Homo sapiens: one gene and its partner. The protein of the gene in region 2 interacts with the protein of the main gene of each other region in a pairwise test. Each region holds a gene or a part of one and is shown on either strand. Other genes may lie near its edges.

Evidence for each region. The genes of interacting proteins can lie anywhere in the genome.
Region 1: the proteins of CFAP418 (region 2) and ZNF106 interact in a two-hybrid assay, tested with the Homo sapiens proteins (one study listed by IntAct).

What each region holds. Positions count from the first base shown.
Region 1 is NC_000015.10:42,412,164-42,419,120, forward strand, and holds the end of ZNF106 (zinc finger protein 106), read right to left. Parts: intron 5,789-6,957; coding exon 5,642-5,788; intron 5,291-5,641; coding exon of another isoform or gene 5,198-5,290; coding exon 5,141-5,197; 3' UTR 660-5,140; downstream 1-659. UniProt on the Homo sapiens protein: RNA-binding protein. Specifically binds to 5'-GGGGCC-3' sequence repeats in RNA. Essential for maintenance of peripheral motor neuron and skeletal muscle function.
Region 2 is NC_000008.11:95,244,564-95,253,221, forward strand, and holds the end of CFAP418 (cilia- and flagella-associated protein 418), read right to left. Parts: intron 7,721-8,658; coding exon 7,625-7,720; intron 3,208-7,624; coding exon 3,054-3,207; 3' UTR 350-3,053; downstream 1-349. UniProt on the Homo sapiens protein: May be involved in photoreceptor outer segment disk morphogenesis.

The sequences.
Region 1 (6,957 bases), on a different chromosome or scaffold from region 2:
CCATGGGCCAGGAACCAAACCAGCACTGGGTTCTACTGCTGTGGGGTAAACTAACTCAGTGGAATAGGGCTGGTTACTTTGGGCTGTCCAACTCATAAGTTTGGCTGCATTTTGAAAAAAGCTGATCTAAATAAAGGCATGTGTATGGCTGGTCCCCTTGTGTTTTGTTGTCTCACATTTAGATATCAGCCATGCATGACTGAATGGCTTCCAATCATATACTCACCTATCACCTACAAGAGAACAATGAAAAACACACACAAAAACAAAATCTTGAATTTTGTAATCATGCCTATTGCTATTTCTTGAGCATAAGAATGGCTCAGATACTTTCCAAGACATAAAAGGAAGGCAGAGGAATAGTTGTTGCTGTAAAAGACATCAAGAATAAATGGGTCATGTACAACGGGAGGGGCCGGTTACCTGAATAATGGAGTGGAGATTGAGCTATCCTAGCTCCTCTGCTCACTAACTGACCTGTCGCATGACCGTGGACAAAACCCTGAACGCAGCTGTTTGTTTGCTAAACTTCTCTGGACCATGGCCTGCGGCATATCTATAGGCATCCTGTGTTTTCCACCCAGTTTCCTTCTTCCTCGCTAAGCCAACGTGGAAAGGGCTGGCCGTGAATATGCAGACAAGGTAACGAAAGTAAACCGTCAATTAGTAAAAGTACTTTATTTTCCTCTTGTATTTGCTTTATATCTTGCTTTACAAAGTTACGAAGTTCACAGCTTTATACCAAAATGTAAGAAGGCTATTTGCTTATAAACATTTTTGCAGTCAGGTGTCATCTGATTTCATTCTTCTAATCCATATTCAATATTAAAAAAATCAGAAACCAAGGGTGCTGGAGCAGCTCTAGGGCATATATTTCTCTTAAATAGGAGAAAGATTTTCAACAGCTTTTCCTCCTTGACCCCCTCCTTTCCCAATTTATTTGGGTCACTACCTTGAATTTAGAGTGAATCTGGGAAATGTAGTCACCAGGTAACCCAGCAGGGCCATATACTTGGGCTTGGAGGTGAGGTTAGAGGTTACTGTCTAATACAGTAGGTCTGGTTTCTATGAGGAGCTCATATCCACTTGCATAAGGAAACCTAGTCTATCCCAAATCACCTCCACCACAACTTCTATTCCTGTCTATTAGACCACTTCTCTTAAACCCGAGGAACCTGATGATTTGGGGGCAGGGATAAAACCATTATTTTATAAATGTGGCAGGTATGGCCTTCGTAATTCTAGAAGCTCCCGTTTAGGTAACAGAAACAAAATTTAGATGTAAGCATAAACTGCAGTTATTTGAGCAAACCAGAGCATATGTGCTGTTCAAATCCCACTTCACAATATACTTCAATCTCACCTCCAATGAATTCTCTTCCATAAAATAAACCATTCCACTAAGTATATACCTACTCCCACCAAATCATCCACATGCCTCATCACTAAAGTTGTCCCTTGTATAATCTACCAGCAAAAAGACAAAATAAAACCTGTGTTAAGCAAATAATCACTTAAACAGTAATAATATTGCCTCTAAATTAAAGGTAAGTCAGGAGCTGAACACTCAACTGTTAACTCTTCTGGGGAAGAAGAAAATTTTTCCCACAAAAGCAGGAGTGCAGTAGTAAGTAATGACTTTCTCTCAGATTCAAGTAACATCAGGTCAAGATAACCTTTGCTGTTAGAGTTTTGTTTGCATGGTGTGGAACTGCTTTATAAACTGAGTAGAGACGTATGCCAAAATTATTTTTAACCTAATTAAAAACTTTCACAGAAAACTTGAAGTGACTGATACTTTATCACAACGAACTGCCATTTAAACACTAGCATAGGTACACAAAAAGATTTATACTATGGTTTTCTTGGCTTTAAGCCATTAGAATTAGACAAAAGCAACCGAGAGTAACATTCTAAAAGTGGCTTCAACTACTTTAAAGACATGAGTCAGTTTTTGTCAGGTCATTTAATGGTTTCTTTCCTTCACAAAGCCACTAAATGCCAGAGTCAACACAGATCCCTGAGCCATAGCTCTTCTCTGAGGGGAAACAGGGTTATAATCAGTCACAACATTGTGGAAGACATTAAAAAAAGAAGGCAAAGTTCTGTATAATTTTCAAGACTCTTGTAAGTAGTAACACACAGCCATAAGCAGCCAAAATGCTTATGGTCCCTTTATTTCTTAATAGAGGGCTAGAACCGTTCATTTGGGGTAACACACTAATCTGGTGTTAAAAGAATTTCATGTGTTCTTGAAACAAAGGCATACTGCCACTGCTTCAAAAAAAGCCTTTGTGAAATGAAGAAAAATATGACAAACACAGGTTCCCACACGTACACATACATACAAAGGAACCTGCACACTTGCACACACACAGGCAGGTATAGGCACACAGTTCCACCAAAGCGAAGTCCAAATCAGAGTTCTTACCGATTCTACCACTCTGTAATACTCTCAGAAGTTCCCACAACTGCCCAACACCTCACCTACCCGTTTCCTGCTGCACAAAGTCTCCTTCACTCTCATCTTTTCGATACATCGTCAGGCAGGGCAGAAGGGCACTACGCCGCAGAGCATTCGAGGCTCTCAGCACACTGCCAGCCAGCGTGAAAATGCGGCTTCACTACAGCCCAGAGAAAAGGGCCAGGTTTAGTCATCGATCCAGATGCATTTTCCCGGGAAATGACCATTCCCAAACCCACAGAACAGTTTGGCTTCTCTGGATATCCTTATAGGAAATAGGGGTGAGAGGTGGGAAAAGCTTCTCAATCTCATACAGAAACAGCACAAATATTTAATACACCTTTTGCAACAAGATCTTCTCTGTTCTCCATTAAGCATCATGTAAATCTCACTAGTGTGGTTAACAAAATGGCTTTCCCCAAGGACAGAAGTCAAGAGCTTGTGGGGCCATATATTATCTAGTACTAGGCCATTCATTATCTCCTAGATTAACTCTTTTTTTTTTTTTTTTGAGGTGGAGTTTCACTCTTGTCGCCCAGGCTGGAGTGCAGTAGTATGATCTTGGCTCACTGCAACTTCTACCTCCAGGGTTCAAGTGATTCTCCTGTCTCAGCCTCCTGAGTAGCTGAGACTACAGGCACATACCACCACACCCAGCTAATTTTTGTATTTTTAATAGAGACGGGGTTTCACTATGTTGGCCAGGCTGGTCTCAAATGCCTGACCTTGAGTGATCCACCCGCCTCGGCCTCCCAAAGAGCTGGGATTACAGGTGTGAGCCACCAGGCCCGGCCTCCTAGATTAATTCTTGACATTTTTTGGATCAAGTAAGAACCACTGGAGCCTTTCCTGGAAAAAAGAACACATACTCAGTCTCACACACAATTTCTGGGGGCTCACAGACCCTCTTGAAGCCTATCCATAAACCCCCTGGTGAAGTCCCCCTGCCCGATAGCCTGAGGGAAGACATGTGAGTGGATATATGTGCACTAACAGGGGCGAAGACAGACCTGGATGGTCTGCAATCCCAGAGAGCATGAGGCACCATGTCCCAAAGCTTGGTATGTGGCCCTGGGCTCCTCCCCCAATTTTATCTCTCTGAAGAAGCTGAGTTTTTTTTTTTTTTTTTGAGACGGAGTCTCACTCTGTCACCAGGCTGGAGTGCAGTGGCACGATCTCAGCTTACTGCAATCTCTGCCTCCCGGGTTCAAGCGATTCTCCTGCCTCAGCCTCCTGAGCAGCTGGGATTACAGGCGCCCACCACGCCCGGCTTTTTGTATTTTTAGTAGAGACGGGGTTTTGCCATGTTGGCCAGGCTGGTCTGCAACTCCTAGCCTCAGGTGATCTGCCTGCCTCAGCCTCCCAAAGTGCTGGGATTACAGGCGTGAGCCACCACGCCCGGCCACGTTCTGAGTTTTGAGGATCCAGAAACAAAAGGCTGGAAAGCGACACTTCTACAGGTTTACTGATGAGTCCGGAGAAAATCCAAAAACAAAGCCCCACTGAGGGTTTGTGAATTTGGCTGTTCTCAGTGGCCAGGCAGAGTCTCTGCTCCACTCTTCTTTCCCAGCTAGCAGGGAAGTGAAGGCAAAGAACTGTCTCAGAAACAAGTCTCTAGGAAGTCTGCTTGAGGTCCTGAAAACTGTATTCAGATGCTTTATTCTAACCCCCTCTCCCCCACCATCTTAGTTGCTGCAGGGGGGTGGAAAACACCCCGTGAGCCCAGAGGAATATTCGATGGCTGCCATCGGTCTAGGCACGGCCATACAGTGGGAGAGATGGAGGCTGGCAACTGAACAAACCAAAAGGGTTCAAACCAACATTAGGCTTGCAGGGTCAGACACTAGAAAGGAAGATAAAGGTACACCTCCAGTTCAACAGCCTGACAGGATCTGTAACAGGTAGTGCCCAGGTTCAACAGCAGATGTAAAGGTAGACGTTAGGTCTACGCACTGCCTCACACTGAGCTTTCTATCCACATTTACAGAGATTTACTAGAAGTGGTGTCTGTAAGGACTTGTCACTATGTGATTTGCTTCCTGAATTCCTAAAAGATAGTCAGCAGAGCAGCCACTGTTTGTCAAAAATCTACTGTGTCCTTTAGCACTTAAAGCCAGCTCTATCTATAAAGCAAGAAAACAGTGACACACACTGCACATAATTGTTAAGAAAGAAAACTATTTGCTTCCAGTTTAAATACCCAGCTATTACAAATGGAGAAATTAAAACTGATCCTCAAAGTCTGGCACTTAAACAAACTTGTACTTAAAAGCCTGACTATAGGTTTAAACCATCATAAGAACATAAATTAAAAATTGCAAACTGAAATCAATAAAATATACATATGATTAGGGTCAAACTGGGTAACCAATTAGGATCTGTATCTTCAATAAACATCTGGAGAACGCAAATAGCATATATCACTATATGCCATGCTGTCCCAGAGAAGTATGGTTCCTTAACATTTGTCTAAATCTATTTAAAACCTCCAGCAAGAACTTAAAAGTGTAATTTATCATCCCATAGAGCTGCCCAGACTTATGCTAGGGGTATGCCTGGCTAGTAACCACTTTCTCCTTCCTTACTTCACCAAGAAAGGGAAGAGAGTGGCCTGTGTGGGGGGCCAATGTGAAAATAGTTCAACTAATGACTTCCCAACGTGGGAGGCAAAAAACTTCATGAATCAATTTTGCTGTCATCTTCAGCATGTCGTTCAATATGTCCTGCAGCATCCTAGGAATGAAGGGAAAAGGGCCCATGAGAGAGAAGTCGATAGTAAGACAGGAGAAAGTCAAAGCCAAGGAAAGCCATGTGGGTCCATTCCACCTAGGATCCAGACAGGAAAGGCAGTTAGGAGCCAGCACTTTGCTAACTTACGTGAAACCATGTACTTAAAGGTGAGCTGTTGTCTCAGCACAAGAGCACTGTAATAAATCTCCAGGTTCAGTTACTGGATTTGAAACATCTGAAAACATTCTCTTTAGGCCCTTTCTCAAAAATGACCTAATTCTTCATTTGCAACTTCATTAAGCTACCCCCCAAATCTCTGAATCATAAAAATAAAAAACCCTAGGCCCTCCCTATATATGGCAATTCTCAATAATAAAAAAGGTTTGCTAGCCCCTGCTCTGAGCAGTCTACTGAATCCCAGGCAAACCTCAAGTCCCACTAATGTACCTGTTTGGATCCTTTCCTAGCAGTGAAAAAAGCATCGCAGTTCTTCCAGCGACATTTCAGAGTCTGGAAGTTGGGATTAGTGTGGTCGGTCAGCAAGTGTTGTTTTAAATGATCTACAACGCCAAATATCAGAGAGCAACCATGCCACTGGAGAGAAAGAAAATGAGGAGACTCGGTGAAAAAGGGTGCAGTGAACGTGAATCAGAACAGCCCCCAGCTGGATCCCATAAGCACTATGGAAGCAAAAAGCCAGCCCCTTATTTCAAATTTATTCTTGGCTAGAAAAGACAACAAAGCCAAGGCAACCAAAATATCAGTATAATGAGGAACCTTGAAAATACTGGAAAAATCTTTTGATATTTTGAGAGGGCACAGCACTAACGTAGCAATTACAACTTCTTAAATCAGGAAAAGGCCAGCAAATGTTTATGGGTAAATTACCATGAAATTCTGTTTAAACTGTATTTTTTGATGTTGCCATCATAAAATTGAGTTTCTATCTTAGTTTATTCAATACAAAAGGCAAATACCTTTCCTATAATATCGAAAGGGCTTTTTTTTTTTTTTTTTTGAGATGGAGTTTCACTCCTGTTGCCCAGGCTGGAGTGCAGTGGCACGATCTCGGCTCACTGCAACCTCTGCCCCCTGCCCCCTGGGTTCAAGCAGTTCTGCTGCCTCGGCCTCCCAAATAGTTGGGATTACAGGCGTGCACCACCACGGCCAGTTAATTTTTTTTTTTTTTTTTTTTTTTTTTAGTAAAGACAGGGTTTCACCATGTTGGTCAGGCTGGTCTCAAACTCCCAACCTCAAGTGATCCGCCCATCTTGGCCTCCCAAAGTGCTGGGATTACAGGCGTGAGCCACCGCACCCCGCCCGAAAGGGCTATTTTTAACAATTCTAAGAACTGTTGAATGTAAATGTGAAAATAAAAATGTCTGATAAAGAAAACTACATTTGTGGAAATATTTATTGTAGAATACTGTGTTTGCCATGGAAGCCTGACTTTACTCACAACCTTTGTCACTTGAATCTCAATCTTATGAATACCTACTTATTTTTTTAAGCTATAATTTTACTTATAAACGTGGCTTAATTTCATGTATTAGAAAGCATAAGCTAGTGTCTTATGCTTCCTAAGTGGTGGCTCAGTGGGATTACACCCTGTAATCCCAGCACTTTGGGAGGCCGAGGTGGGTGGTTCACTTCAGCCCAGGAGCTCGAGACCAGCCTGGGCAACATAGTGAGACCCTTTCTCTACCAAAAAAAAAAAAAAAAAAATACAGGCCGGGCGTGGTGGCTCACACCTGTAATCCTAG
Region 2 (8,658 bases):
ATGCACACACATACTCTCTTTACACATGCATGTACACACACACACACACACACACACACACACACACACACACATCAGAGTTATGGCATACTTCTCCTCCCCAGTGTAGACAAATTATCTGTTTAACTGGATGCTTGGAAACTTTTCTGTTGACATTAAAAAAATTTTTTTTGACTGGGCATGGTGCTTCACACCTGTAATCCCAGCACTTTGGGAGGCTGAGGTGGGAGGATCGCTTTAGCTCAGGAGTTCAAGGAAGCAGTGAGCTATGATTGCACCACTGCACTCTAGTCTGGGCAACAGAGAGAGACTCTGTCTCAAAAAAAAAAAACATCAAAATGATTTCAAATTAATGTCCATCCAAATGAATATTTTACTATAAAATAAAAGAAGTAAATAATACAGAGTAATTATTTATTACTTATTCATTTCTAGGCAGGATGAGGGTCTGAGAGTATAATACAGTTCAAATAAAGAAGTTACCTGGCTTAAAAATAGCTACTTGCTAAAGATAGAAAATTATTATAAATCTTAAAAACAAACAGGCAAAACATCTTGAAAGTTTTATAGGCTTTGCATTTTAAAATTATAGATGATTAGAAACTATACTTTTCTTCTATACTGATACTAAAATAGTTTCATTTTCAGCTTAAATTACAACAGTTAATAATTTATCTGACTGTATATAAACATAATATTCTTTCTACATTTTAGTTTAAAATAGTACAATATTAAAAAGCTTATAAATTGCCAATAAACATGGGAACTCACACATACATTTCTGACATTGGGGGATTATTATAATTATTATGTTATGGAATGCCAAACATAGGCAATGTATGTAAGTTTTAGGATAGTTATAATGAAATAATAAAAGGGAAAAAAAAACCAGGACAACTTTGTCCCTTCAAAGTAGAGGCAATGTAGGCTACTTTGGGAGGCTGAGGCGGGCGGATCACGAGTTCAGGAGATCGACATCATTCTGGCCAACATGGTGAAACCCTGTCTCTATTAAAAATACAAAAATTAGCTGGGCGTGGTGGTGTGTGCCTGTAATCCCAGCTACTGGGGAGGCTGAGGCAGGACAATCACTTGAAGCTGCGAGGCGGAGGTTGCAGTGAGCAGAGATCGTGCCACTGCACTCCAGCCCGGCAACAGAGTGACACTCCATCTCAAAAAAAAAATTTTTTTTTTCAAATTAGTGATTTAGTAAATTTGCTTACTGGAATAAAAAAGAAAGAATTGCACCATTATGAATAATGTGTCAAATTCTATGAGGTTCTAAATGTGTGGATCTTGTTGCTCTGCTATTTTTTTCCAGCAGTCGACTTCAATCGACATCCCCCTAGGTTTCTGACTCAATTACATATAGATATAACTTTAGGGATATAATACATTTTTATTAAAAGATAAAATCTGTCATAATGTCTTTTTTTTTTTTTTGAGACAGAGTCTCACTGTGTTGTCCAGGCTGGAGCGCAGTGGCGCGACCTTGGCTCACTACAACCTCTGCCTCCCAGGTTCAATAAATTTTCCTGCCTCGGCCTCCCGAGTAGTTGGGATTACAGGCATGCACCACCGCGCCCAGCTAATTTTTGTATTTTTAGTAGAGATGGTGTTTTATCATGTTGGCCAGGCTGGTCTTGAACTCCTGACCTCAGCTGATCTGCCTGCCTCAGCCTCCCAAAGTGCTGGGATTACAGGCGTGAGCTACCATGCTTAGTCTGTCATAATATCCTTAATACAAAAGTGTGAGGATTGGCCATTATAAGATCTATTCTGTTGCAATGCTAGACTTACTACAATAAATTTTACAAGTATGTAAATGTGTCATGGCTAGGAAAAGGATTCTAATGATCAGATCTTCCTCCCTTCAGTAGGGTGGCTGGAATAAATTTAGCATAAGACTAAGAAGATTATAACTTTGTTTCAATTATTCCCTTTCAGGGTGCTCTGTATCACACATTTGAACTATATAGTACATATGTAGCAGGGAGTTTGTGGCAGATTGGAAAGCTCCCAAAATCTCTCAATGGGGTTGGGAGCTAGAAATTTTGAGGGACCTGATTTCCTGAATGTGCTGCTATTGTAGGGCTCCTCAGATCTCAGTGATGTCAGGAAGGAGCCCAACAGGTTACCTGTTGGTTCAGTTATGCTTTACTTGTCTTTTCACTTACTCACCTAATAAACGATATGTCAACCTGATCCTACCAGAGAAGTCCACAGGCTGCCTGAAAAATTATATTACTTGCTGTTTACTTCCCTTGATGGAGTTTTAGGCATTAAAGGATAGAAAGTACTTGGAAAATCCAACAATAACCTGTATGTATTAGGATTTTTGTGATTTTGGGTGCATCAAACTCTTTTTATATATTATTGGGTAATCAAAATAGAAAATAACTTTTGATAGTTAAATGAACAAAAGAGGGAAAAATAAGCTAAAACTGGTAACATGTATTTAATATTGTGCATAACATTGCTTTGAGTTGATGAGGTAAGATCAGCTATGAGGCAGTGTTTTTGCAAAATACCTGTAACTACTTCTGAACACCCTTCAGTCAGCCACTGATCACCTGGTTTCTGCCATGTCCAAATTATGATCTTTGGCAACAAAAGATCTGACTGGAAGAAGTGTTGTAGACACCCCTAAATGATCTCTTTGCCCTGGCCGGCTTTATCCACTTTAACTGCTACAAGTTGGGGAATGATTTGCTAAACGTATTAGCAATCAATATTGCAGTTGCTAATGAAAAACTAGATATTTGTATGGAACTCCATAATCAAACCTCTATTAAACAGAAGACAGATTAGTAAAGAATGTAGATGCCTGTTACTAAGTGAAACATCCATGTATCAGGAATAATTCCAAAGTGTTATAATACATGATCTTCCTTAGTCCATTTGGTCTTCAAAAATGTATGTAGTTGTATCAATAAAATTCACTGCCTTTTCCCACAGGGAATGGTATTGCTAGGGACTATTGTCTAAACATGATGATGATTCATGGAGACCACTCTCATGGATGCATCTGTCCGAATGTGCAGTCTGCATTCTTAATGTTTACCACAAACCCAGCGAAGCTGATGATCTGTCTGAAGGTCAGTCACTTCTTCAATAGTTCTCCAGCTACACTGGCAGGCATATGCCCGTGTTCCTTTCTTCTTTATCAACTTTGCTTTTAATTTGTGAAATTCTGGCATGTTGTTCCTATTAGTAAAACAGGAAAGTTTTAGCATAGTGGCTTTGTTCAGTGCTTAATGATTAAAAAAAAAAAAAAAGGTCATTGCTTTCTTTTCTTTTCTTTTTTTGTTTTTAGGAGTCTCATTGTTACTCAGGCTGGATTGCGGTGGCACAATCATGGCTCACTGCAGCCTTGACCTCCCAGGCTTCCCCTCAGCCTTCCAAGTAGCTGAGACCACAGGCATGTGCCACTATGCCCGGCTTAAAAAATTTTTTTTTGTAGAGATGAGGTCTCAGTATGTTGTCCAGGTTGATCTCAAACTCCTGGGCTCAAGTGATCCATCCACCTCAGCCTCCCAAAGTGCTGAGATTGCAGGCATGAACCATGGTGCCCAGCCTATTTTCTTATCTTCCCCGTATCTGAACACTAAACAACCTAGATCCCCTCACACTAACACTAGAAGATATGCTTCAGTGTTCTCTTTCTGATGGTATTTCTTTGATAATCTGTACTTTTTATGGCAATCCTCTAGGCCAGTTTATTGAATGTTGAAGAACACAATAACCTAAAGGCTGAAGAATTACAAACGCCCTATCAGAGATGAAATAATATGAAAATAGGGTGGAAAGGATGGTGGTTCATTTCCTACCTCAGATACTCACCTATGCCATATTTTAAAAGCCTGTAATATGGCAAGTTGAGAGAACATTAGAGGCATAAAGATCATAGGTTTCTGATGAATTAACTATAGAAAATTTTCATTAGCTTCAATGATCTGTTTATTCATACTATCAGCAACAAAAATGTCTATCCTGAAATAAATATTAATAATGTTGAAATAATTAAATCAACAAGTAGGGCCATCGTAAAAATGATAAACACTGGATTTCATACTATTATAAAAAAGACTACAGAAGTTTAATTAATAAAAACATCAATTATGATTTCATGATAATCCATGTAATGAGTTCATATAAACATTCCATGGCAAAGAAAAGTAGAAAAAATTTTTAAAAAAGATGAAAAAATACAAAGTGAAAGGACGAAATACAGTATGAATACCAGAAAAAGAGATACGGTACCTAACCATTGCTTGTGGATATCACTGCAACAGAAGGCAGGCTACAAAGTGCCCTCTGGTGGTCAATGGGCACCATATTCAGTATTAAACTGTACGAAATTCAGGCACAATTTAGAAGGTTAGAACCTCACAAAACCTGACAGATTTTCCAAGCCAACTGTCTGACTTCAGGAAACAGACTGACTAGCTAAACGACTTAGCTAAGGGAAGAAATGAATAATCTAAATTTTAACAGAAAGAAAAAAACCCCGCCAAAACTAAGTTGTTGAGGAAAAATGTCCTTTATTTGATCTGCAAAATATTTTGAAAACTTAACATTTGATACTTGACTGAATCCTTAGCGATTTTAGGATTAGGAATCATGAATAGGCAGGGATCTAATTATGACATTTGAAATGGTTTTTAAAATGCACGTATCTTAAAAGCTTAGGGAAAAATCATTCCATTCTTAAAGAAAACACGATTTAATAGAAAAATAAAAGCATTTTCTTCAGCTGTTGTGGCAAGGTGGTCAGTAAGTATAGCTGACACTTCTTTTACAATGTTCTAAAACTTGTCTGGGTGTGGTGGGTCATGCCTGTAATCCCTGCACTTTGGGGAGCCAAGGTGGGTGGACCACTTGAGCTCAGGAGTTCGAGACCAGCATGGGCAACATGGTGAGACCCCATCTCTACAAAATTAGCTGGATGTGGTAGTGCGCACCTGTATTCCTAGCTGCTCGAGAGGCTGAGGCCGAAGGATCCTTTCAATCTGGGAAGTGGAGGTTGCAGTGAGCTGAAACTGCAGTCCTGCACTCTAGCCTGGGTAACAGGGTTTGCAAGATTGGCTCAGAAAAAAAAAAAAAGTTCTAAAACTTCTCAAAGATAGGATACATTTATTTCTCTCATCTGTAAAATAGGACAATAAAACAACTGCACAGCATTCCACTGTGTAACATTTAACTTGTCTTTGGTCACTGTCCACTTCTGGTTTCCTCAGTGATTATTCCACATCCTCCTCCACTCCCTTATTTTCAGCAGATCACATCTTCATTCTCAAAACCAGGTCGCCAGGTATGAAAGCCTTCAATTTCCTGGCAAGCTCACCCTGAACACATCAGTACCTTGCTGGCTTCCTCTCAGTCACAGAGGTCTTCCTTTTCCTATCCAAGGCTCACCTCCCATCAGTGCTCTTGACCCTATTGTCTCTATGACCTTGCTGCTCACATGCTTGTCCCCACCCATGTCTCCCTTCCCCTGGGTTCCTCTCATCTTATGAGCCCAGTATCTAAGAGTGTCATAGACTAGGTGCTGAATAATGTCTACTGGTAAACACCAATATATTGTACAAAATAAATCTATCAGTGATTTATATCCTAATGGTGGAGACCGCCTTATTCTTTAGCTGTTCCATTCTCTTATCTCCCAAACATATTCCTAAGTGTCTTGAGAACTGAGACAGTATTTTCTACTGATTTAAATAATGACTACTTGTTTATTTTTAATAGTATAATAAATCCTCTAGTTGTCACTGTTTTATCTAAAAGTACATATATTTTTTAAACCAGGCTGCCACAGATCTAGGGTAAACCAACTGGTGTTCTTGATAACTCTGAGATGCTGCAAGTTCCTCAAGTACCGACTAGGTTATCCATAGTTTACTTTATGCCTGTGTTCACCACTGCCTTGATGTTACATGCATTTTATTATCCTATGATAGTTTTATAAAAATTCATGCTTCATCTTGGTGACATATGGGGATTATTAACCACTTATTAGATTAACTAGTAGACAGTAAATAGCAGAGGGTTTAGAAAAGTCAGAAAAGGGAAAGTCAACCTGTAATTAAAAGCCAACTTTTCCACTTATGGGGTAAAAAGTGGGCTAAGCCTAAAAGTATGGGTTCCTAACCTCAGATTTTGGGAGTACATTAGGCTTTATTTGGGTTGGAAACTGTAAAATTTTTCAAGTTATAATTTTTCCATGTATTTTTATATTTGAATTGTATGTGTATGAGGGGCATTCAAAGCTTTCATAAGATTTGCAAAGTGGTTCTTGATGTGAAAAAGTTTAAAAACTATTAAATTAGGGTATACTCATAGATTTACCCAAGAATGGCTGCCAAAAAAGGCGTAGGGGAAAGTCTCTTACCCTTTTCTTTATGCTATTGAAAAGTGCTGCAATATTACACTGTATTAATTTTTAGCTTTAAATTTTTATTTGAAAATGTCAATGTAAAGTTCAAATATATTTTTATAACTTGTAACACCTTAAAGATAGTAGGTATTCTGTAAGTGTATAAGAATGTACAAATTATATAAATATGAGCAAGACATTATCTCAGCCACAAGGAGGGAGGTAGTCATACACCAACCTAAGAGCTTCAGTTTTATATTACAGTATATAATAGGTCCAAAGCACCGTGAATACACAGGAAGGGAAGAGTTTTCTTCCAGTTGAGAGAGTGGTGAAAGAATCATGGAAGACATGTGATGAATTATACTCTGAAGGACAGGTAGGGTTTAGGTAGATAAAATGGTGGGAAGGCATCCCAAGAGGTAAAGAGGTTGTACAAAGTCAGAGGGAATGGGAGCCTTGAGTACTCTGATGTAGCTAAAATCTTGCAAAGGTGAAATATACATTGTGGGAAGACAAAGCTGGATGATGGATGGATGGGAGCTGGATTATGGAGGGTCATGAATGCCATGCTAAGGAATTTGGACATTATTCTGTAAGTGGAAGGGTGTTGAGCAGGAGGACGGTATACTCTGAGCTATGCTTTAATTCTGAACAAGGGAAGGATGGTCTGAGAGAAGAGATTGTAGCCAGAAAAACCAGTGAGGAGGTTACTTCTGTATTCTTGTCCAGAAGTAACATGTCCTTATCTAGGCTGACAGCAGGCAGATGGAGAGAAGGAGATGGATGACAGAAACACAGTCATGCATTGCTTATGCTTTGTTAGGCAATTCCATCATTGTGGGAATATCAAAGAGTGAATTTATACAAACCTAGATGGTATAGCCTACCACACACCTAGGCTATATGGTATAGGCTACTGTTCCAAGGCTACAAACCTCTACAGCATGTTACTGTTTATACCAGCATCACCACAAACATGTGCAATGCATTGCAGTATAATATTACAAAGGCTATGATGTCACTAGGTGATAGGAATTTTTCAACTCCGTCATAATCTTATGGAACCACCATGTATATATATATATGCAGTCCATCGTTGACTGAAGCATCATAACGCAGCACATGACTATACTGAAGAGGTGAAGCCCACAAGATCTGGCTGAATCCACCCAGAGAGAATATATCAAAATAGGAAATATAAACTACTTGGTACTTTTTTCAGAGTGAAGTTCTTTAGCAACATACCTGAAAAACAGATAATCACACGATTTGTCCCACATATAGTCATCATAGCTGACTACCAAGAAATCACAGGCTATACAACGCAGATGGTCACATGCTCTGTTCAGAGAAAAAAAATTGTATATTAAAGATTATTGGTATCTTTAAATACCAATGAAAACATGGTGATTTATTTATAGGATACACCACATATTACAGATTACTGAATAAACAACAGAAAAGTACAGATTAATCTGATTATAAATCTTTATACTAAAGCATTATTTACGGTCTAAACCTTAAGGTTAAATTTTTGCACAAACCTACCTATTTTACTATGATCTTGTACACTGAACTTACACATATATTATATAGATATGAAAGAAAATAGATTTGTAGATCTTTTAATTCCATGGTTTTCAAATTACGTCTGAGGGAGATCGTCATATAAGCTAACTTCTTTAAATGCTCCCCTTCCTACTGAAATTTTCAGGAATATCTCTACCGAAGAATATGTCACATGACATTGAAATGAATCTGTTTTTCAGATAAGCTGCTTAAGCGCTGGGAAAAGATTGTATTTGTTTGCTTCCTCACAACTTGGCATAATGCATTCATTCACTCAAAAAATATTTATTGAGAGTCTGGTATGTGCTAATGAGATTCTGTCTTCATAGAGCTTTGATTGCAGTGAGAGAAGAAACAAACAATGCTCATGATAACTAGACTATATACTAACCTGGAGGGATATCTGAAGCAAGGTGCACACTAACATATATAGCATGATCCTATTTTTGTAAAAACGACCCCCACAAAAAATTCCTATATAGGTGGCTAGAAGTTTATAAGAACATGGAGCAAAATGGCCGGGCGCGGTGGCTCACGCCTGTAATCCCAGCCCTTTGGGAGGCTGAGGCGGGCGGATCACGAGGTCAGGAGATCGAGACCATCCTGGCTAACACAGTGAAACCCCATCTCTACTAAAAATACAAAAAAATTAGCTGGGCATGGTGGCGGGCGCCTGTAGTCCCAGCTACTCAGGAGGCTGAGGCAGGAGA